Linked DNA regions of Homo sapiens: region 2 is linked to region 1. The links come from fine-mapping of genetic effects on gene expression. A gene starts in region 1. The other region holds a variant in brackets. All regions are shown on one strand. Distances are from middle to middle.

The links.
Region 2: its variant is fine-mapped to the expression of YWHAZ in iPS cells (PhLiPS, PIP 0.95).

What each region holds. Positions count from the first base shown.
Region 1 is chr8:100,948,910-100,954,280 of GRCh38, forward strand. It overlaps YWHAZ (tyrosine 3-monooxygenase/tryptophan 5-monooxygenase activation protein zeta), which reads right to left and starts at 3,111. Exons shown (of 6, transcript NM_145690.3): 1 at 3,020-3,111. RefSeq lists enhancers at 1,316-1,375, 1,490-2,349, 1,976-2,055, 3,208-4,066, 4,346-4,455 and 1 more and silencers at 1,636-1,855, 2,246-3,015, 3,246-3,505, 3,526-4,205.
Region 2 is chr8:100,923,332-100,928,658 of GRCh38, forward strand. It overlaps YWHAZ (tyrosine 3-monooxygenase/tryptophan 5-monooxygenase activation protein zeta), which reads right to left. Exons shown (of 6, transcript NM_145690.3): 3 at 1,585-1,708; 4 at 804-967; 5 at 624-719. Among named protein-coding and RNA genes, the nearest start is that of YWHAZ, 26 kb to the right of the region's middle. The variant AT/A (reference allele first, on the strand shown) is at 2,867.

The DNA.
Region 1 (5,371 bases):
GGAAAAAAGGAGTATTTAAAATTTTTCCCATCAAAATAAACAGACTCAAAATTATACCTGTGGTAAATGAGTTTTTTAAACCTGAAACCTAACTGCCTGTGAAAGACTGTTCACATGAGGAATTAAAATGCAGCCTCACAAAAGGATAGTCAAAAAAGGGAAAAAAATTTAGCATACTCAGCATCAGAGGTAAACTTACAGCCATTAACACATCAGTGTAGCAAAACTTAAAATTTGTTCAGAAGACCCAAATTTCACATGTCAAAATTACTTCCAAAAGCTGCCTCAAAAACTACCCCTAATCTTACCTGATCAAAATCTCAACTCATTTCCAATACCACTAAGTGATCCAAAATTAAGCAGCTTTTCTTCCTTTAGTAAAAGCATTGTTTACAGAGAACATCTGGATTTCTATCATATTTCCAGAATCATAATTCATATCAGTTTAATGTAACTCACGTCTTTTTACTTTCATAATACTCTTGTCAAGAGTGATTACATTTTAGCTTTAGTGTTACCCCTACCCCAAACCTACTAGATCTCTGCAACAACTGCCAGCCAATAATAGCATAACAATTTGGGGGGGAATGACCAACTGTTTGTTTTCAGATATTTTGAGTATAAATCCACCACAAAGGATCAATATCTGACCCTAATGTCTCAACTCTTTATCTTGTTATATGTCCACATGCTTTAAAAATATCCGCAAGTCATGACACTTCAACTCTTACTGTGAGTACTAGAATATATCACATTGGAAGTACTTAATTTATAAGTGTTTCCAATGTCATCGCTCCAGTTGAAATGCAGAAGTGCTGCATTTTGCTTCTAGCCATCATAATGTAATTGGATGTTACCACTCAAGCTGTCCTTTACCATGACTACCCATCTAATTCTCTTTCCCTCGCATTTTAGTTTCCTGGACCTTTTCGATTTACCTCAGCTACATTTTTCTGGAAAGATACCCTTTTGCAAGTTGCCGAACAGCACAAAGATACTAATCCACACAGTGACACCACAGAATAAATGACTTCAGAGGAAAATACACACCCTGAATGAAGTGCACTTTTAAGTTAGAAGGTGAACAGAAGAGTCCACCTTGGCAGCTGGCTCCCGAATATTAATCATCTTTTACCTTCCCAGGGAAATCCCACAATATTTTTTTAACCAAATGAGAGAACAGGTCGCCACATTTTAAACAAATAATTAACCACTTTGGATGCAAGGTACTGGCTCAATACGTAAACTATTTAACCTTTATGACGGCATTATTTTCGTCAGGTCTCTAAATTACTGATTTTTCCCTTAGGATCTCAGAAACGCTCTCTGGTTATTTCTGCTTCTAACAAAAAATGATTTAAGCCAGTACAAAGGATTCTCTCCCCAATCACTTCGGTACAAGAGGAAGTGGATAAGGTTTCTCACACAGTAACGAGTGCTCCAAGGCCTCGCCTCTACACTGCGGGCAGGACTCACCGCACCCATTTAACCCTTACCTGACTTGAGACGTCGGTTACTGTGAAACGAAAACGGGCAGACCCGGACTTTAAAGTGCAAATTCTCCGGTCCGCGTATCGCAACCACCCCCCTCCAGGCTCCGCCCAAGTCGGAGCCACGGCTCAAGTCCCCGACTCTCCTCCTTTGTCATGGCGGATCTGTGTCAGGGAGCCCAACCTACTGCAGAGTGTTAATTCCTCCCCCCGACCGGAGCCAGAGGGAGGAGCAGCCCGCGCCCCCGCCCAAGCCGTGGGGGGGGGGGAGAGATGGGGAGCGAAGCCGCCCGACCCCGGGGCAGAGACGCCACAGCAGCCCGCAGAAGCGGAACCACTACCAGCCCCGCCGCGGACACACCCCGCTCTCCCACCCAGCGCCTTCCCCGCCACCGATCAGCGCCGGTGACCGTGTACAGCGTCTCTAAGGGACCGACAGCTGCAGGTGGGGGAGGGGACGAGAGCCACACCCAGCCGAGCGGGCCACCAGCGGCTATGCTCAGGCTCACCCGCCCCCAAAGCAGGATATGCGTCCCCAAACCGAGCGCAGGGACCCTCCAGTTCTAGTCCATCAAGCACGGGAGCCGACTGCGGGCTCACCACCCTGTTCTCTACCCCGACCTGGACTTGCAGCCCCCGTCCACACCTCCCCCGCCCGTTCACAAGGAGCAAAAAAAGTCAGACCCATCCCCCACCCCCACCAGGAAAATTCAAGTCCTTCCTCCCACCGCGGAGCCCAGGAAATTCAGCTCTAGGTCCCAGGCGAGCCCCACCCCAAAACCTCACCCCGCAGTGGACTCCCCTCCCGCCGGCGCGCAGCCTCGCCCCGGTCTACCTGGCGGGCGCCGCCGCGCCAGGCCTGGGCTCCGGCCCGCTCTCGGCCAGGCCTTTCCCTCGCGCTTGGGTCCCCGAGGCCCCCGGCCCCTCCCCGCCGCGCCACCGCCTCCCGGGGTGGGGGAGGGCCGGGTCCCGCCGCCGCAGCGCCCAGCGCGGAGGCTGCGCGAGGGGGAGGGAAAGGAGGGGGCGGCCGAGGGAGAGGGGAGGGGGCGGCCTCACCTGCGCCACTGCGATGCCCGCCGCCGCCGCCGCCGAGTCATTATCTCGGGCGGAAGCGAGAAGGGCGGCGAGGGAGGGGGTGGAAGCCCGCAGAGACAAGGGTGGGGATGGATCGCGGCCGGCGGCGCCCCGGCCATGCCTCGTCCACCTTCGGGAGCCGGCGACAGGGAGATCCCCAGGGATCTCGCGTGTGGGCGCCCTACCCACCCCCGGGGGCAGGACGGGGGAGCGAGCACCGATCGGCGCCGGGGCGTCGATGCGGAAGCAAGGAGCCGGAGGCGGCCGCTAGCCGCCCTCCCGAGCCCAGCGGAAGAGGAGCCGCCGCCCGTGTCCGCTGAGGAGACTCCGCCTCAGCCCGGCGCCGCCACCGCGGGGCGAGTGGGGATGAGGGGACGGAGCGAGGACGGCTCCCACGCGTTCGGAAGGCTGGCCTGGGACAGGAAGCGAGGCGCGGCGGCGGCCGGGTTCCTCACCTGTGTCCGGAGTGGGTGGTGGCGGCGGACGGACGGGCTCAGCAGTCTCTGGGCGGCGGCGGCGGCAGCAGCGGCGAGGCTGAGACTCTGTCCCTGGATCTCGCTGCTCACAGGCTACAGCCGCTCCGCAGACACGGGGTTTCCTCCAATCACCAGCCCCGGCAGCAGGGGCACCACACGCACGATGACGTCAAACGCTGCTATGGCAACCGTTGATTGGTGCCCACAGCGATCGGGGCCCCGCGTAACCGCCGCTCCCCGGCGCTCGTCCTGCCCGCCCGCGCTGGAGGGCGAGCGGAGGCGCGCGCGTCCTCGCCCGCAGCCGCCACTCCTCCCACCCCGCTCGGCTTCCAGCTCCTCTACGCTTGTCCCGAGTGCACCTAGGGCAGGAGGCTGCTTTTTTCCTTTTCCTCCCCAACGCAAATCCCCCACTCCTCGCCTTCCCTTTGGGTCCCCAACGCCCTCTCTCTCCCTCTCCCCTGCAGCCTCTGCCGGCCCACTCTTCCTCTCAGCCGGCGGGAAGGCGTTCTCTCCCTACCCCCACCTTAGCTTTCGCTCAGCCCGTCTGCGCTTGCCCCAGTCACTCCCTCTGGAAGGGGCTCCCGTTCAGCAACATCCGGGACCTTTCACATCCCCCCACCCCTCCCCGAGGCCCGGCCCGCCCCACCCTCCGTGCTTCGCGGTAGTAACTGCCCCAGGGCCGTCCCCGGGCAGGATGACAAGGGTGGCTCGGCGGCTCCGGCATTGTGATCAGGACTTGCGGGGCGGGGGCCCCGGGGCGGGGGCAGGGCGCGGTCGCACGGCAAGGGAGGGTTGTGTGTGGTGCGCTGCCCCCCGCCCCGCCCGCCGCTCCCCTTCCCCGGCTGGGCCGACCGGGGCGCGCGGCCCCTCCCGGCCTCCCTCCCGCCGCCGCGGCTTTACCTGCTGGCTCGGGGGAAGCGGTCCTAGACCTTTTATGGCTCGGAAACGGGAGTGAGGCGTCCAGCCCCTGAGTGTGGCTGAGTGATGGGGAGGCGTTCCAATCGAGAGCGCGGGATCTGCGCTCGGTGACTGCGCGAGGGGACAATGGGTGGGCGCCGAGGTGGGGGCGAGGTGGGCCGGGCCGGGCGGAGCCGGCAGGAGGTGAGGCCTGGAAGGAGGCGCGGCCGCTTTAGGGAAGCCAGAGTTCCGAGGGGAAAGGACAGCCTTCTCGGGCGGAGGGCTGGAGCTGGTCCTGGCAGCCTTGACCCGGAGACAGGCAGTCAGGCGTGACCGCACGGACCCGTTTCTCGTAGGCTAGGTTTTCCTACCCAAATAAAGCTTTCACGTGAAGACCTCATACTGCACATGACGATCATTACCTTTTTATCTCCTAGAAGCAAGGTTTGAGGGACGTCGTAGTCCCCAGGGTTCCAGCTGGCGGTGGGAGTGGGCCACAGGCCGGGTGATGAGCCGGGACGGGAGCCCGGAAGAAGGGGAAGGAGAAAGGCGGAAATTGCAGGTGCCTGAACCGGTAGGGCCTCCGCCCAGTTGACTTCAGGAAGTTCAGAGAGAAACATTCACAGTGTGAATGATCTCTGCCCCTTCCCTCTTTAAATGTGTTCGGGCTAAGAAAAGATTAGTGCTTGGATGACCTGCAAAACCACTTGCAACAGCCATGGAGAGTGTACGGTTAGCAATGAGAGAGCTTGGAACTCTTCATTTTACTCTTGTGTAAACTCCCCATTGATTCTTCCAACGTATCTTTATTGAGCTGACCAGAGCCTCCGTTTAGCCTCATGTTCTCTACAGAATTTAGTTTCTCAGTAGTAGACACGAAATGATTGAGTCCTCGCTCTTCCAGTACATTGTCTTTCCTACATAATACAGTGGACCACAAGGCTGCTCTACAAATTACTTTTTGCCTGACATGACAGCTGGCATTTAGATAGTACAGACCAGAAAGAGGGTTTCCAGTGACCAGTTATATTTTAGTGGGTTTTTTTGTTGTTGCTTTTCACAAGTTGCCAAATCACAGACTCATGGTAGGTTAAATGGATAAACAAATTGGAGTTTTATTTCTGAGATGTTAGGGTCAACTAGCTTTGACTCCCAAGTAAATTCTTTTAGGGCGTGACTCACTTAAAATGAGTAATATTTCAAAAGCTATTTTTTTTACAGTTTTTTCGTAGGCACCAGAAATTTGACAGAGGATACTAAGTTAAACGTTTTTTTAAAATGGAAATTGATGTTTCTTTAATGTCTCAAATATATGTCTATGTAGAGTATATGCCTTTTGTTTTAGAGGAAGTTAAGGGGTTTTTCTGTATAAATATGGATTTACTTCAGGAAACAGCTAAGTTAGGCTTTTGCCTCATGCTTTAATAGCAAGGC
Region 2 (5,327 bases), 26 kb before region 1:
ATCAACTGCATTGTGGACTGAATTTGAATCCCAATTCAAATAACTTAAAAAAAGAGAGATAATTGGAATTCAAGTATTATTTAGATATTCAAACATTATTAGGGAATTATGTTGATGTTCCTGGTGTGATAGTGACACTGTTTCTTTTTATACATCTGCAGTATCCCAAGGACAATCACGACCTTTCATATTAAGTCATTTAAAATAAGAAGCTAGGCAAAATAGACTTCCACTTGGATTCTGTAGATACCTGAGATTTTGTAACTCAAGTTATTAATTCCCTACCATTATCTTTACCAATATGGAGGCAACTTGATGGGCAAGAAAATCATTCTTAAAGGAACTAAAACATGTAGAGTCTCAGCACACTTTTGATACTAACAAATTTTAACAAGACAGGTAACTCATCAATGTGTGTATTTTTTAGTTCTCAGTCTAATATTTCAGTTTCTGTAATTTTCCTTCATAGGACTTTAATAGTAGCTGAGATATATTTATGAGAGCCTATGAAATGTGTTGAGAAAAAATTTTAAAAGATGTATTTAATAAAAAAAAAAATTCCCTAGAGTAAAACATAACCTCTTCAACCACATTCATCACTAATGATGCTGTTATGTACTTACTGTCAAGTTGTCTCTCAGTAATTGCATTATTAGCGTGCTGTCTTTGTATGACTCTTCACTTAATGTATCAAGTTCAGCAATGGCTTCATCAAAAGCCTACGATTTAAAAATAGTACATTACATTTCAGTGCTCAAATAATAAAGACTGCTAAATTTCTACGTAACAGGTAAAATACATACTGTCTTTGCAAGAGAGCAGGCTTTCTCTGGGGAGTTCAGAATCTCATAATAGAACACAGAGAAGTTAAGGGCCAGACCCAGTCTGATAGGATGTGTTGGTTGCATTTCCTTTTTGCTGATTTCAAAAGCTTCTTGGTATGCTTGTTGTGACTGATCGACAATCCCTGGATAAGACACACCAAAACGTACTGAGATAAAGTGTGCATTATATCTTCACCCCTCAAACCAAACCTTTAATATCTCACATATCCTTTGAAATACTAACCTGTAACAGCTTAATATTTGTTAATTGAACAAGGTCCTTTTTTTTTTTTAAAGGGAGCTTTCTCCTGGTACACACTAGCCATTGATCAATGTCAAGATAAAACAACTTTATAATCTCATTATTGTTATGTTTTTAAAAAATTGACGAGTTTTGACATCCCAGACCCAAGCAATCCTCCCACCTCAGCCTCCAGATTAGCTGGGACCAAAGGCTTGCACCACCATGCCCAGCTAATTTTCAAAATATTTTTTGTAGAGAGAGATGTTGCTCAGGCTGGTCACTTTTCTTAAAATCTTGAAAAAACATCCCTGTACACAATATTGGCTTTTCAGAAAGCATTTATTTTAGAATAGCAGTATGAGGCAGTAGATGTGTATTCTCAGAACACAAAGAGCACTGCTACTCCTTATTCGGCACTCTAAGCAATTCAAAACAAGACATTATGTACGCTTCAGAGACTCTTCCTCACTATGTTATCTTATACAAGTTCAACCAACAGGTTTAAAAACAGCATACCTTTCTTGTCATCACCAGCGGCAACCTCAGCCAAGTAACGGTAGTAATCTCCTTTCATTTTCAAATAGAAGACTTTGCTCTCTGCTTGTGAAGCATTGGGGATCAAGAACTTTTCCAAAAGAGACTTAAGAAGAAAAGAAACAGACATAGTGAGAATAAAACATTTACAAAACTGAAAGAACTTGCATTTCTTAAAGAACAAACTATAGCCTAAGTTATAAAACTTAAACACCCAGTCACTGTCAATACAATTGTGAATGCAGCTGGCACATGAATTTGTGGTTTAAAGCAGAATGCTTTGGGCAGCAATATTTTAAGTTTGAAGTTAGTGTTCAGTTTATTATTTGAGGACAATAAAATTGAACATTGGTCCCTGACAATGTTATCTATTTACATGCTGACTTCATGAATGTGGGGCATGACCGTTCACATTTAGGAACATTTTCTAATGAGCTGGCAAGCTTTCCATCTGAAGTTTCATGTGGTCATGACATGAAAATAGAAAGAACATACGGGATGAACCTTTTGGGACTCTGGAGAAATGACTAAAGCAGAAACCAATAATGTAAGACACTTAAGGAGTCCATGCCAGAGAAGGAGGAACAAAATAAACTTCATTTATAACAACACAATTCAAGCAAACCTCACAACAGATAAAAAAACCGTTCAAAAGTTTTATTTTTCCTAAAGACAGTGGTAGGAGACTTACAGATTTTAAAGAGCAGACCTTTAATCTCATTGAAGTCATTTTCGGCTAGTAAGATACACGATTACAGATCATCCCAGACAACAGATAAAATTAAAACATCATCCTATAAAATTCTGTCTAAAACTACTATTACAATCTGAGTCATTTGATTAGGATTTTAAAAATTACACTCTTTAACTGATTTTAAAGCAAAAAGATTAGATCATTGTGTTGGGGATGGGAAGAAGTCTCAATAAATGTGTAATTTTTTTCTTTCCAGTTAAGGGGGAGAAAAATAATTCTAGTAGTAGAATTAGGTAAACATTAAAGCAAAAAAACCCCAACCACCCATTCTCACTACCCCACTTCCTTTAAAGTTCAAGTACACTCTGAGAATCAAGGTGAAGTCAATTTTCAGCTGAGCTAAATTCCAAATCCATTCTTACAAAAAAAAAGTATTAGTTTATATAGCACCTACTTATATATAAAATATAAATTTGAAAAATGCTTTTAAATGGTAACTCCAACTTTTTGTTTACCCATTATGTTCCAATGCTGGGTAGGTGAACAGTTTTAACCCAACTTCTTCCCCCA[AT/A]TTTTTTTTTTTTTTTTTTTACAACTCAAGCTACAGATAACCCAGATGAAGTGGCAGTAGGGCCAGATTGCACTGTGCTATATAAAGAGGTTAAAGGTGAGAAAAGTCAACCTGAAATGATGTTTCCTGCAATTATTAACCGATATTTAAAAATACTGGCCTGAGGCCGGGCACAGTGGCTCATGCCAGTAATCCCAGCACTCTGGGAGGCTAGGGTGGCAGGATCACTTGAGGTGAGCCTCGTCAACATGGTGAAACCCTGTCTCTACTAAAAATACAAAAATTAGCCAGGCGTGGTGACGGGCGCCTGTAATCCCAGCTGAGGCAGGAGAACTGCTTGAGCCCGAGAGATAGAGGCTGCAGTGAGCCGAGGTTGCACCACTGCACTGCAGCCTGGATGACAGAGCAAGACTCCATCTCAAAATAAATAAAAATAAAATAAAATTACTGGCCGGAAATCAGAAGAACGTTTTGGTTAGGATAGCAACCTCTGTCTTACACCACATTCATACTTTCATATTCAAAGTTCTCTTAGCTGCAAAAGTGTTTTGTCCTTTGAATACAATGCTTTTTACCACCTATGGTTGCTCTGTGGAGATCTGCCTCAAACAGTGGAAGACACTTGCATTTAAAATAGTCAAGTGAGTCTTTCCACTTAAAAACAATGGTTTTAAGAAACAAATGACCAGGATTTTCAAAAGTTTCATTGTTACACAAATTGTATTATTCATTCAACTATGGGAGATGGTATAAACATAAGTGGCTTTGGGGTGAGTCTGGTTTTGAATTACAGCACTATACACCGTGTGAACTACTTAATCTCAATGATTCAGTTATCTCACCTGTAAGGCAGAGACCTCTAAGATTATTGAGAAAAAATACAGGTAAGCACTTAGGAGTAAGCACTTAAAATTTTATTTCTATTATCACAATAACACCAGACACCATGCTAGAAGCTGGAAGCACAATATTCTGGTAATTCATAATCTAGCTGTAGAGACAAGGCTATCATTCCTTCCATTACAATACACTTTACAAGAATTGCAGGGCACGGTGGCTCACTCCTGTAATCCCAACACTTTGGGAGGCTGAGGTGGGAGGATCACTTCTTGAGTCCAGGAGTTTGAGACCACCCCGGTGAACATGAGATCCTGCCTCTACAAAAAAATTTAAAAGTTAACCAGGTGTGGTGGCACACCCCTATAGTCCCAGCTACTTGGAAGGCTGAGACAGGAGGATCATCTGAGTCCAGGAGTTTGAGGCTGCAGTGATCTGTAATTGAATTATACCACTGTACTCTAGGACAGGGTGACAGTGAGGCTGTCTCAAAAAGAGTAACACTGCCTAATCACGTCTTTCACTTTTCGGTAACTTTAACCCCCTCTATGTATGCAGAGATGAAGGCCATAAACACATGCAGTTACTTAAGAGTGAACCAGTCACTTAAGATGTAAAATTTTAAAGCTGTACTAAAAACTTAAATTTTTTTAGGAAAGGTGTTGATAAATGCTACTAAAAGTAGTAATCTATCTTTTGTAGGTAGTAACTTTCTACCTGGGTAATATGCTGAACTAAGCAGTTCCCTGGGAATTAAAATGGCAGTTAAGCACTTCTTTCCCCAAAGCTGAACACTGAATTAACCATAAAACAACTTTAAAGCTATTTGTTAGAACCCACAAGTAACAGGAGGGCTGGGTAAACAGCAGTCAGGCTGCTTACTGGCCTAATGATAGACCAAAAGAACCAAACAAGTGGCAAGTGTTTCTGGTGAGATGCTGACCATAAGAGTTGAGAAAGGTGGCTGGGCATGGTGGCTCACGCCTGTAATCCCAACACTTTGGGAGGCTGAGGTGGGCGGATCACGAGGTCAGGAGATCGAGGCCATCCTGGCTAACAAGGTGAAACCCCGGTCTCTACTACAAAAAGAAAAAATTAGCCAGGTGTGGTGGCGGGCGCCTGTAGTCCCAGCTACTCGGGAGACTGAGGCAGGAGAACAGTGTGAACCCGGGAGGCGGAGCTTGCAGTGAGCTGAGATAGTGCCACTGCACTCCAGCCTGGGCAACAGAGTGAGACTCCGTCTCAAAAAAAAAGAGTTGAGAAAGGCATAAATGGCCTACTTCTAATAAATCGTCCAATGACATAAGCTAATTAAGATTTAAAAACCCAAAACCAAGCAAGACTGGATTAAAGATTAAATTTAAAGGGGCTAACACTGTAGCTCAAAAAAAGCTAACTATAAAAGAACATTTTCTGCCAGGTGTGGTGGTTCATGCCTATAATCCCAGCACTTTGGGAGGCTGAGGCGGGTGGATCACCTGAGGTCAGGAGTTCGAGACCAGCCTGGCCAACACGGTAAAACCTCGTCTCTACCAAAAATACAAAAAATTAGCCAGGCGTGGTGGCACACGCCTGGAATCCCAGGTACTCAGGAGGCTGAGGCAGGAGAATCACTTGAACCCG